Homo sapiens: one gene and its partners. The protein of the gene in region 1 purifies or fractionates together with the protein of each later gene. This does not show direct contact. Each region holds a gene or a part of one and is shown in the gene's direction. Other genes may lie near its edges. The genes, in order: ARL15, NDUFS6 and SLC25A20.

Region 1 (3,752 bases):
TTGTTGGGCAATAAATATAATGTTCTACTTTTGTATGATACAGTGTGTATGAGTCGGGAGCTTCCTGAACTTTGTGTTTTATGATACCTTTTGAGAGAAGATCATCAATACTTCTAGAAGCCATAATAATTTGCTATTTATTCACAGCCAGGAATTGGTAATACTAAATGCCGTTAGTCAGTATGCTGGCCAATATAGTAAGAGTGACTTGTGACTGGTTATTAATTGAACAGGTTTTTCAGCACATACCTATTATAAGTTCTTGCTTTTTCCATCCTAGAAAATTCAGGACTGAAAAAGAAAAAAAAAGGTAGAAGATTTTACGCATATATGTAAATTTATGTAAGTGTGTATATGCATACAAACATACATACATGCAGTTTCTATCCTCTTTCCTAGAAAACACGCTCTCATGTCTCAGAAGCAGATACTAGAAATTTGAGAGAGAAAGAGAAGAAGATTATTTAAATTAGATTTTTGTTGTGTTATGTGCTTGATGGTCAAAATAATTGAGTCTTGAGTAATCAATATAGTACCTACTGTAAGTCGTCACCCATTTAATAAGTTGGCAAGGTGAGATAGTGAAAGCTACTCTGCTAATTATTTTGATGAAATCGAATCTTTTGGTGTCTGCAATGTATCTTGACTGGTGCCATAGTGCAAATAATTTTTTCTCTGACTTCATCAGACCTCCCACGCTGCTAAATGTATGGGTGGAATGGTGGCTTGCACGCAGATCATTCACCTCTAAAGAAAACACTCCCAGGTCACAATATATAACCCACATTATAACAACAGCTGCGGACAGGCATCCACATTGCAAAGTTGTAGGCATCACAGTTCGTATAAATTCCGCCTCGAAATTCCCCTACTTTATCCCTCAGAATTTTGATATGAGAAAGTTTCTGATATAATTAATAACCTATTTATCTTTATTTTTTCCTCTTAAGATCAAAAAATATTTTGAACTTGAACCACTTGCACGTGGAAAACGCTGGATTCTACAGCCCTGCTCACTGGATGACATGGATGCACTGAAAGACAGCTTCTCTCAGCTGATTAATTTGTTAGAAGAAAAAGACCATGAAGCTGTAAGAATGTGAAATCTGGCAAAGAAAACAGGCTCCCAAAAGGCCTTGAACCTATCATGTTAGTTTCTCATTTTAATTTTATTTTGGTATCAAGACTATATTGGCTTCAGTATCTATTTTCCTCTGGTCATTTCAGACTCTCATCTCTCTATTAAAGTGAATATTCTGTAGATCAGATGAATTATCATCGGCATTAACGTCAAGTACACACTACTGAGAGAGAATTTATTCTCTGTTTACCACTAATTATCTTCCCCGCATGTCTCTTCCTTCTGTTGTTCTAAGCATCTCTTCTATACTCTGTGCTGAAACGGATGGAATTCATGGCTTATGGAAATCAAATCCCTTTTGAAGGACTCAGAAAGACTCACAAGACCTTGATCATTTTCTCTGGGTTTGGGAGTGGAGTATTATGTGACTGGGACTCCACAAAATATTTATATTATTTTCAAGACCTATTGGGGGTTTTGTTTTATTTTATCTAATTTTTTTTTTTTTTTGGTATACTGAGCTTATAGACTATGAGAGAAAAGTGAGCACCAAAAACTTCATTAATCACCTTATCAGGAAGGAATATCCTGCCATAGTAAAATTGGCTCTGAAGAGCTTAGAGGCAAGTTACACAATGTTTTCTTGATTACATCTGAAGTCTCTTCTCTTTTAAGAGCAAAGACATTGTTTCAGTTTCTGAGAGTGGTTAGAGGAAATTTAGGTACAATGCATGCATCACAGACTGTATTTGATTGATTCGAGTCTTCAAATATTGTTTAATGGAATGATGAGCCTGCATAAAGTGAAGCTGCAATGTAACATAGGTATCTTTTTCTAAAAACTTCAAGTGTTTGATTAAAATAGAGAAAATAATTTTTAAAATAATAGATAAAAATTTTAAAAACAGCCAGAAAAAGTATAATTTATACTGGTTAGGGTTTAAGATGGCATGGATTTGACAAAGATAACAAAGACAGAATCATCTATATATTCATTCATTACGTGTTACTGTAGTTTATTGGAATCTGTTAATGCCTTCCTCTAGTAGTTAAAGGTTTATCAGTATTTCTATTATAAACCTCTATTTTCAGGGGTTTCAATGTGCCCTTAAAATTGTGCTGGGGCTGCAGCAAATAAATAATATTGGGACTCATATTCAGTCTTTGGAACTAGTTTTTTTTCCATTTAATTTAAATGACAAAATTGCATAGGGATAAATGTACAGTTTTACTAAGGTTTAGCACCTTTGATCTTTTCTAAATCAGGAAAAAAATCTATGCATATTGAGGTTCACAGATGAAATATTCTTTGGCATACTTTGTAGACTTTGACCACTTAAAATACTAAGTGGCCAAATGATAAAAAAAACTGCTCCCTGCACATGAGTGTAAAAACATGTTTGTAATTTTAAGTAAAATGGACTGATACCCAAATACCACAGACTCACACTATATTACAGAATGATGTAATACCTGGTAATTCTCCAGAAGATAGACTTCAGACCCTTAATGCCATTTAAATGTAGTTTTTGTGGTTTAATCTTATGAGTAGATTGTAATGAAATCATTACCTTTGAAACATCAAACACTTCTTTAAGCTTTTTTTTTTTAATGTCATGAATCAGGAAGGATACATAGTGATTCGTATACAATTTTGTCTGCAGCATTCTTGAATATTTTTAACACTGTGTAATCCCTGAGCAGCACAAAACTTTTATTCCGATGACCAGTTACACAATTCCTGTTTTTATTTTGTCCTGTTGTGCTCATCTTCTATGAAAAATAAATGATTATTAGGCCTTGCTTTCCCTGCAAGTTCATTAAATGTAGAATGTTGTCTTTTTAAGACACCGTGGCTGAGTGCTCCTAAGCCATCTGTTAAATGACTTCCCGTGGTCTGCGTGTGTGTGTTCATGTGTGCGCCAGTGATGGGCCTCTCCTCAAACCCACGACTGTCTGCAGCGTCTCAGCCGTCAGAATGAAAACATTATCAATCAGTACCCAACAACAGCTGTTTTTGACAAGTTTCTGTCTGACGCCTAATGCTTTACAACTGTCAATAAGGCTCCCTCTTTGTCTAGCAGGTCGGAGCTCGCTGTCTTGCTGCTTCCGCGCGGCATCCTGTCCTTGTAACCCTAGAATTTGCCATGTTTTGGAAATCCACGTGGGGGCGGGGTGGGGCCTGAACGGGTGGGGATGGGTGGGTGGGTGGTGGGGTGGGTGGGATGGCTGGGGGTGGGAGTGTAAGTCCCTTTTCCTACTTTCATGTAAAGTGCCACAGGTGTCTTGGTTTGCATATTCAAATATTATATAGGAAAAACAGTCTGTTATGTATTTCTTCACCTAGCTTCTTGTAATATTTATGGACGTTTCCAGTTTTTGTACCTTCTTAGCTAAAGCAGTTGCCTTTTTGTAATGGCAATTAATTTATATGATAAAACTTTGTATCCACTGTAGTTGACAGTATTGGTTGCTAATTAACTGCCATATTGCCCTGTCTTTCTATTAAAAAAATACTGTACCTGTACTTAGAGGCTAACAGATTCATGTGGACATTTACCAGGCAAGACCAACTTGTATTGTCCATGATTTCTACGATTTCCACTATCTTCAAATGAAAAATAAACGCTGAGTAGAACTGGTGTTTTCAGACTAACTCCTTTCAACTTTA
Region 2 (3,652 bases), about 52 Mb from region 1:
GCTGAGAGGGAGTGCTGAGGTACCCAGGGGTCAGTAGCTGCAGGAAGCAGCCACTATTCCTAGGACTTGGGGGGCAGGAGGAAGAGGTGGCGTCACCAGGAGGGAGCTGTGAAAGTGCCCTTGTGGTGCCGCTGGAGCTCCAGGTGGGAGACAGGACTGGGAGTCGGGGATGGGTGCTAGGGTGAGGCCCCCAGCCAGACAGTGGTGGCTGAGAAGGTCCTCCGTGAGAGGAAGATTGAATTGAGGGGCCTCGGAATTCCACCCTCCGCCTTTGCAGGTCATCTGGTTGGTGGCAGAGGTGGAGCTCTGTGCTTGCTTCCAGGTTCATCCTTAGAGGGTTTAAGAGGGGAGGTTTGCCTGAGTCTCTCTTGTCTTGAAGCAACCTGGGCGTCCTTTAGGGGGTGTTTGAGACGCGGGCGGTGCGATGTGCGCCATGGCTGCTCTCCAGAGCTTTTGTGTGGCTTCCCGCTTCTGCATGCTCCTCCTCCTGAGCTTCCCTCCCAAATACGCCATCTTTATAGTGGAGTGAAGGCAATCGGATTTTAAAAGAAATCTTCTGGATGGATAAGAACCGTGGGTCTTTGCTTCCTTTAGAAAGGCTTGGACTGTCAGAAATAATGGTTATAAAGTGAGGTTTATTTATCCCAGGACCCAGAGGAAAATAGTTGGAACTGTGAATTCACGAGCCCCAGGTTCACATGCTGGTGGCTTTGTTTGTGAGCTGGCGAGATGGGCTTTATTTCCTCCCTCATGCAGCTCCCCAGCTTCGTCTTTGCTTCTCTATTGTGTCTTTGTGTCTTGTGGTTCTTTCTCTTCCAAGGCACTGGCAAAATTAGTCACTGGATTCCAACATTCTCAAAGCAAGTTTGAACATGTTGTACAGACAGCTCAATTGTGGTTTTTAGAGCATTTTCTATAAAGTTACTTAGTTTAAAAATTAATTTGAATGAAAACTTCAGTTTTGCCTGTGATTTAAGAATTATATACTTATATAGACATGTATACACACGTTTAGCTTAAATAATTATTGGCATTCATGTTCAGAATGCCTGATGTTCTAAATAATTGAACTGAGCTTTTACTTTATTTTAAACTTTTATTTTAAATGTCCATGAATGGGGTCGGTATTCTACAGTGTCGATGATCCAGCTGGTGGACTTTTCCCTTCTGCGTTGGTTTTGATGCTGTGTCACAGAATCACATATTTTATGTTTTATCTTTAATAGATGTAATCTCAGTTTGACACAATAGGACTTTGACTCCTAAAGATTTAAACCTACATATCTTTATGCCCAATCATTTGATCATCAAGAGGTCAATGGAAAGAGTGTTTCCTATTTTTTACATTAGTGACGGGCGAGGGACTCATTTTACAGAGGTTGGACACTTCACTGTGTATGATGTGCCGTGTGCTTAACAAGAGATGGCGTGCGGGCTGCTGTGACGGTTCTCCCTTGATTCCCTCGTGAAGTGCAGCAGCGCTCTTCAGTTTTTCTCACCTTTCCCCAGGTGAAAGCAGGTGAGAATGGAGCCTTGAGTCTGAACCCAGAGCGGGGCTTTGTGTTGTGGCTGGGTGTGTTCACTGCCGGAGCTTGGCCGTGTGAACCCGGAGCCGGGCTCTGTGTCGTGGCTGGGTGTGTTCACTGCTGGTTCTTTGTATTCCTGCGGTTGCACTGAGCTCCTGGAGCCAGACGTTTGCTGGTGATGGGCGGTCAGGGTCACCCTTGAGCTGCGCACACTAAATGACGGGAGGGCATCCCGCGTCAGTCGCCAGTGTCGAGGCGTCAGCAGCCCTCCCTGCAGGGAGGTGGCCGGTCTCTTTGACTGCCGTGATCGGGGCCTGGCAGTTTGTTAGTGCGGCCTTTGTGACACGTTGTCACTTAGGCAGACACCATATTATTTACACCATAAGGCTTAATTTGTATGGTTAGTTGCATCGCCTGCAGCAGGGGTGAGCAGAACATCGCTCACTCCAGAGCCCTCTGTAAGGCGCTGCGACAAGGCGAGCCGCCGGGCCGGCAGCAGAGGCTTGTGTTGCTGGAGCGTGTGGAACAACCTGGGCGGCGCCACACGGCTCAGGCCTCTGCTTTAATGTGGCTTCATTTTCCACTAACTTCCTACTGTGTTTCTGGAAATAGATCTTCAAGGAAAAGCTTTACACAATGGTCATCTGTAACTGACAGAACCTCTTGAAAAATAAACCTTTCCGAAACATATCTGTGAGGGAGAGTGGTGCCCTGCCTCCCACTGCGTGTGTGTTCTCTGTGACTGTGTGGCATTGAATGGGCCTCTAGTCTCCAGAAATGAGTGACTTTGTGATGAGCCCTGTTGCTGCTTCCACTCTGGGGCGGGGACGCTGTAGAAGGAGCACAAAGTTTCAGGCTGTGCCATTAAGCAGGGGAACCCCAGGAGCAACATCCGAGGCAGAGGGTTGTGTCATGCTTGGCGGGGCTGGCCCTCCAGGAGGGGACATGCAGGTAGACCCACATCCCTGGGCTTAGAGGCCTGCTGGGGGTGTAGAGTTGAGTTCCTTCCCTCTACATGCACAGATGCCGGCGCTCTACTTCCCATAGCTTCCCGGTTCTTCGTGCCTTGTCTTCCTGGCACTTAATCGTTGACTGTTCCCAGGGGCAGCTGAAAGGGGCTGGCTCATTACAGAGTCAGAGGAAATCAAGGCATGTCCCCTTTCCAAGTTCCCAAATTTGCCATCGTGAGCATCATCAAATACATTATTTGCCAAGCCAGGATGTTTTAATTGCTTTTTAAAAAACATAAATTCTGTGAAACAGAGGGAATAGTCTAATGATTCCCTTTTCCCATGTATCCAGGCAGTCAGTTTCAACAATTACCAACCGAAGTAGTTGTCGGAGGGGCCAGTCTGGCTCAGCTCCTCTAATGGTTGTCGGAGTGGCCAGTCCGGCTCAGCTCTGCTAATCGTTGTCGGAGTGGCCAGTCTGGCTCAGCTCTGCTCTGCCTCTCCCCCGGCCCCCCAGCCCCTGGTAATGTTGATGTGAATCTTTGACATCATGTTACTGAGTCTAAATTTATCTGTATGTAAGTTGACCCTTGAACAACATAGGTGTGAACTGTGAGTCCACTTAAGTGGCTTCTCTTTCGCCTCTGCCACCCCTGAGACAGCAGGACCAACCCTCCCTTCCTCCTCCTCAGCCTGCTCTACGTGAAGATGATGAGGATGAAGACCTTTATGACGATCCACTTCCACTTAATGAAAAGTCAGTTCATTTTCTCTTCCTTGTGATTTCCTTCATTGCATTTTCTTCCTCTAGCTTACTTTATTATAAGAATCCAATATATAATACTTGTAACATGCAAAATATATGTTAATCGACCATTTATGTTATTGGCAAACATTCTGGTCAGCATCAGGCTATGAGTAAATTGTGGGGGAGTCAAAAATAATATGCAGATTTTCAATTGTGTTGGGGGTGGTTCCCCCAACCCCTGAGTTGTTCAAGGATTAACTGTACCTTCAAAAGATACTAACATTCAGATCTTACAGGGAAGTAAAAAAAAAACAAAATAACAAAATATATTAACATGACAACAATATAATTATCACACCTTAAAAATTATACTTTCTTTAAGTTAAATATCTAAGTGGTGTTAAATATTCTTGATCATGCATGTTTTT
Region 3 (3,652 bases), on another chromosome or scaffold:
CTCCCAGGTCCTGAATCTTCCTCGTTTACCACCTTGTTTGGCAGGGTATTTATGTATGTATTTGTCTGTCTGTCTAATTATTTATTGGTTACCACATAATTCACTTTCTTTTTTTTTTTCTAGAGATGGGGTCTCACTCTGTCACCCAGGGTAGAGTACAGTGGCAAGGTCATAGCTCACTGCAGCCTTGAACTCCTTGGCTCAAGTTATTCTCCCAACTCAGCCTCCTGACTGCCTAGGACTACAGGCACACACCACCACGTCTGGCTAACTTTTATTTTTTATTTGTTTTTGTAGAGACAGGGTCTTGCTATGCTGCCCAGGCTCATCTTCCCTTTCATTACTAAACTGTGCTAGTGAAAATTGCTGTGCAGTTCTAACAAAAGTCCCATCTTAATACCTGGAAAATATAAAACATTTTCTTAATCACTTGTAATCTTACCCCAAAGAAGGTAGATCACGTTGTGTATCCTGTTTTGTAGCTTTTTTTTTTTTTTTTACTTAATAATCTCTTCTCATGTTATAATGTGATTTCTTGGCCATGTGACTCCATTTATGGAGTTTATAATTTGTCTTCTATTTGGCAGCTTTTGTTTTTTTCCCCAAAATTTTGGTACCTTATAAGTGCCTGAGGTTATTCTTTTTACACCTCTGAGTATTTCCCTAGAATAAATTCCTTGCAATAAATTTTCCACACAAAATATTTCCAGGTGAAAGGGTATGCTACATATTGGCAGATTGCTGGCCGGGTGCAGTGGCTTATGCCTATAATCCCAGCACTTTAATAGGCCAAGGCAGGAGGATCACTTGAGCCCAGGAGTTCGAGACCAGCTTGGGCAACATGGCAAAACCCTGTCTCTACAAAAAATACAAAAATTAGGTGGGCATGGTGGCGCACGCCTGTAGTCCCAGCTACTTGGGAGGCTGAGATGGGAGGATCACTTGAGCCCAGGGGATCAAGGCTGTGATGAGTTGTGATCGCACCACTGCACCCCAGCCTGGGCGACAGAGTGAGACCCTGTCTGAAAAAAAAAGCCCCCAAAACAAAAACAGATTGCCTTTGAGAATGGAAACTGCCTTCAGTTTCTCCAGCATAATAGGAAAATTATTTCTGATAAATGTGGGAGATTTTCTTCCATTTAAAGTTCTCCTTGCTTCAAGAAGAGGTGAAGGAAGCCACAGTTTGGAGGACACACTGCTTTCCTCTTTCAGTGATTTAAAAGGTGGTGGTGTCTGTAAACAGCTTCTGCTTCTGTGATTCCTTGCAGGGCATCACGGGGCTATATCGGGGAATGGCTGCCCCTATCATCGGGGTCACTCCCATGTTTGCCGTGTGCTTCTTTGGGTTTGGTTTGGGGAAGAAACTACAACAGAAACACCCAGAAGATGTGCTCAGGTGAGTACTTACAGGTCAGGAGCACTTGCTGTTCTGCCTGGTAGCGTGACATGGGTTAAAATAAAGAAACTTGGGCAGGGCGCGGTGGCTCATACCTGTAATCCTAGCACTTTGGGAGACTGAGGCGGGTGGATCACCTGAGGTCAGGAGGTCGAGTCCAGCTTGGCCAACATGGCAAAACCCTGTCTCTACTAAAAATACAAAAAAATTAGCTGGGTGTTGTGGCAGGCGCCTGTAGTCCCAGCTACTTGGAAGGCCGAGGCAGGAGAATCGCTTGAACTTGGGAGGCAAGAGGTTGCAGTGAGCCGAGATGGCACCACTGCACTCCAACCTGAGCAACGGAGCAAGACTCCATCTCAAAAAAAAAAAAAAAAAAAAGGACCTTGGTGGGTCTTCCTGGGCCCCTAGGCCTGACTCCTGGGAGTTTTTTTTTTCTTTCTTTTTTGAGACAGAGTTTTGCTCTTTTTGCCCAGGCTGGAGTGCAATGGCACAATCTCGGCTCACTGCAACCTCCGCCTCCCAGGTACAAGCAATTCTCCTGTCTTAGCCTCCCAAGTAGCTCGGATTACAGGCATGCACCACCACACCTGGCTAATTTTTTTGTGTGTTTAGTAGAGAGGGGGTTTCACCACATTAGGCTGGTCACGATCTCCTGACCCCAGGTGATCCACCCGCCTCGGCCTCCCAAAGTGCTGGGATTTCAGGCGTGTGCCACTGTGCCTGGCCCAACTCCTGGGAGTTATACATGAAGGAGTACTTGAGTTTTTAATTTTTTTAATTTTAAATTTTTTTTTGTTTGTTCGAGACTGAGTCTTGCTCTGTCGCCCAGGCTGGAGTGCAGTGGCGCAATCTCGGCTCACTGTAAGCTCCACATCCCAGGTTCACACCATTCTCCTGCCTCAGCCTTCCAACTAGCTGGGACTATAGGCACCCGCCACCACGCCCGGCTAATTTTTTTTTTTTTTGTATTTTTAGTAGAGACGGGGTTTCGCCGTGTTAGCCAGGATGGTCTCGATCTCCTGACCTCGTGATCCGCCCCCTTTGGCCCCCCAAAGTGCTGGGATTACAGGCATAAGCCACTGTGCCCAGCCCAAGTACTTGAGTTTTTGAGATGGGGTCTTTCTTTGTCACCCAGGCTGGAATGCAGTGGTGCAATCACGACTCACTGTAACCTTGAACTCCTGGGCTCAAGTGATTCTTCTGCCTCAGCCCCCCAAGTAGCTGGGACTACAGGCACACACCATCACTCTGGGCTAATTTTTAAATTTTTTTTAGCAATGGTCGGTGTGTGTGTGTCGGGGCGGCGGGGGGTGCTCTCATTATCTTGCCCAGGCTGGTCTTGAACTCCTGGAGCCAAGCAATTCTCTTGCCTTGGCCTCCCACAGTGCTAGGATTACAGGTGTAAGCCACCACACCTGACCAGTTTTTCGTATTTCTTTTATAAGGTAGTATCAATTACTGGAGAGATTTGTAATACCAACCCCAGGAGGCTGTTGAGAGGTCTGAATGCTTAAATATATGTGACATGTCATAGGCAGCACCTGGTGCTGCCCTAAAGACAAGAACAGCCTTGCTTTCTATCACCTGATTGAGAGAAGAGAAGGTTCCAACTTTTGTTGTGCTTCATTTTTACAGCATGCTAATATGACTATAAAGATTTCAGGTATTAGTTTCTCTGTTAAAGTGGAATAAGTTAATGTGTTTTCCTTTAATAAACTTTAAGAAGTTGGATTTGGGTATGAAGAGTCACCTGAGACAGAATTATAGTTCAGAATTTACAAAGTAGTTAATGAAAACAGAGGCTTCTCAGGAGGCAGGGAAATTCTGAGTGGAAATATTGGGTGAAAAGGTATCCACAATCTGAGCTGTGCAGGATGCCAGCCCCTGGGAGGGGCTATAGGCAGTACAGGAGCCACAGAGGCTGGCCTGCCCTCAGATCCAGGAGCTCAAGGGAGGAAGCCCAGGGCGCCATGCGGTTGTATTCTGTCACCACTTCAGGCCACAGCAGGCTGAGTGAGGGTCTAGGATGTAGATGGAGGTGCTTGTAGAGTGAAACTCTATTTCTGGGATCCTTATGACTCTCTGAATGTCCCTAGATTCTATAAATAGCTGCAAGTGTCCTGAAATGTGGATGGGGTTGTTTTGGAGCTGCATTTGCCCATTGATAGTCCTTGTGTCCCACAGACACATGCCCTCTTTGAGCGCCTGGTCTTTTAGCATGTGTGCCAGCTCACGGATGTATCAGGGCCATGCATG

The links.
Region 2: the proteins of ARL15 (region 1) and NDUFS6 purify together in Homo sapiens (co-immunoprecipitation; one large-scale study listed by IntAct). This does not show direct contact.
Region 3: the proteins of ARL15 (region 1) and SLC25A20 purify together in Homo sapiens (affinity purification with mass spectrometry; 2 studies listed by BioGRID and IntAct, with this or other methods). This does not show direct contact.

The regions. Positions count from the first base shown.
Region 1 is NC_000005.10:53,883,912-53,887,663, reverse strand, and holds the end of ARL15 (ADP-ribosylation factor-like protein 15), read left to right. Parts: intron 1-950; coding exon 951-1,103; 3' UTR 1,104-3,722; downstream 3,723-3,752.
Region 2 is NC_000005.10:1,807,830-1,811,481, forward strand, and holds part of NDUFS6 (NADH dehydrogenase [ubiquinone] iron-sulfur protein 6, mitochondrial precursor), read left to right. Parts: intron 1-3,652. UniProt on the Homo sapiens protein: Accessory subunit of the mitochondrial membrane respiratory chain NADH dehydrogenase (Complex I), that is believed not to be involved in catalysis. Complex I functions in the transfer of electrons from NADH to the respiratory chain.
Region 3 is NC_000003.12:48,881,741-48,885,392, reverse strand, and holds part of SLC25A20 (mitochondrial carnitine/acylcarnitine carrier protein), read left to right. Parts: intron 1-1,268; coding exon 1,269-1,396; intron 1,397-3,652. UniProt on the Homo sapiens protein: Mediates the electroneutral exchange of acylcarnitines (O-acyl-(R)-carnitine or L-acylcarnitine) of different acyl chain lengths (ranging from O-acetyl-(R)-carnitine to long-chain O-acyl-(R)-carnitines) with free carnitine ((R)-carnitine or L-carnitine) across the mitochondrial inner membrane, via a ping-pong mechanism.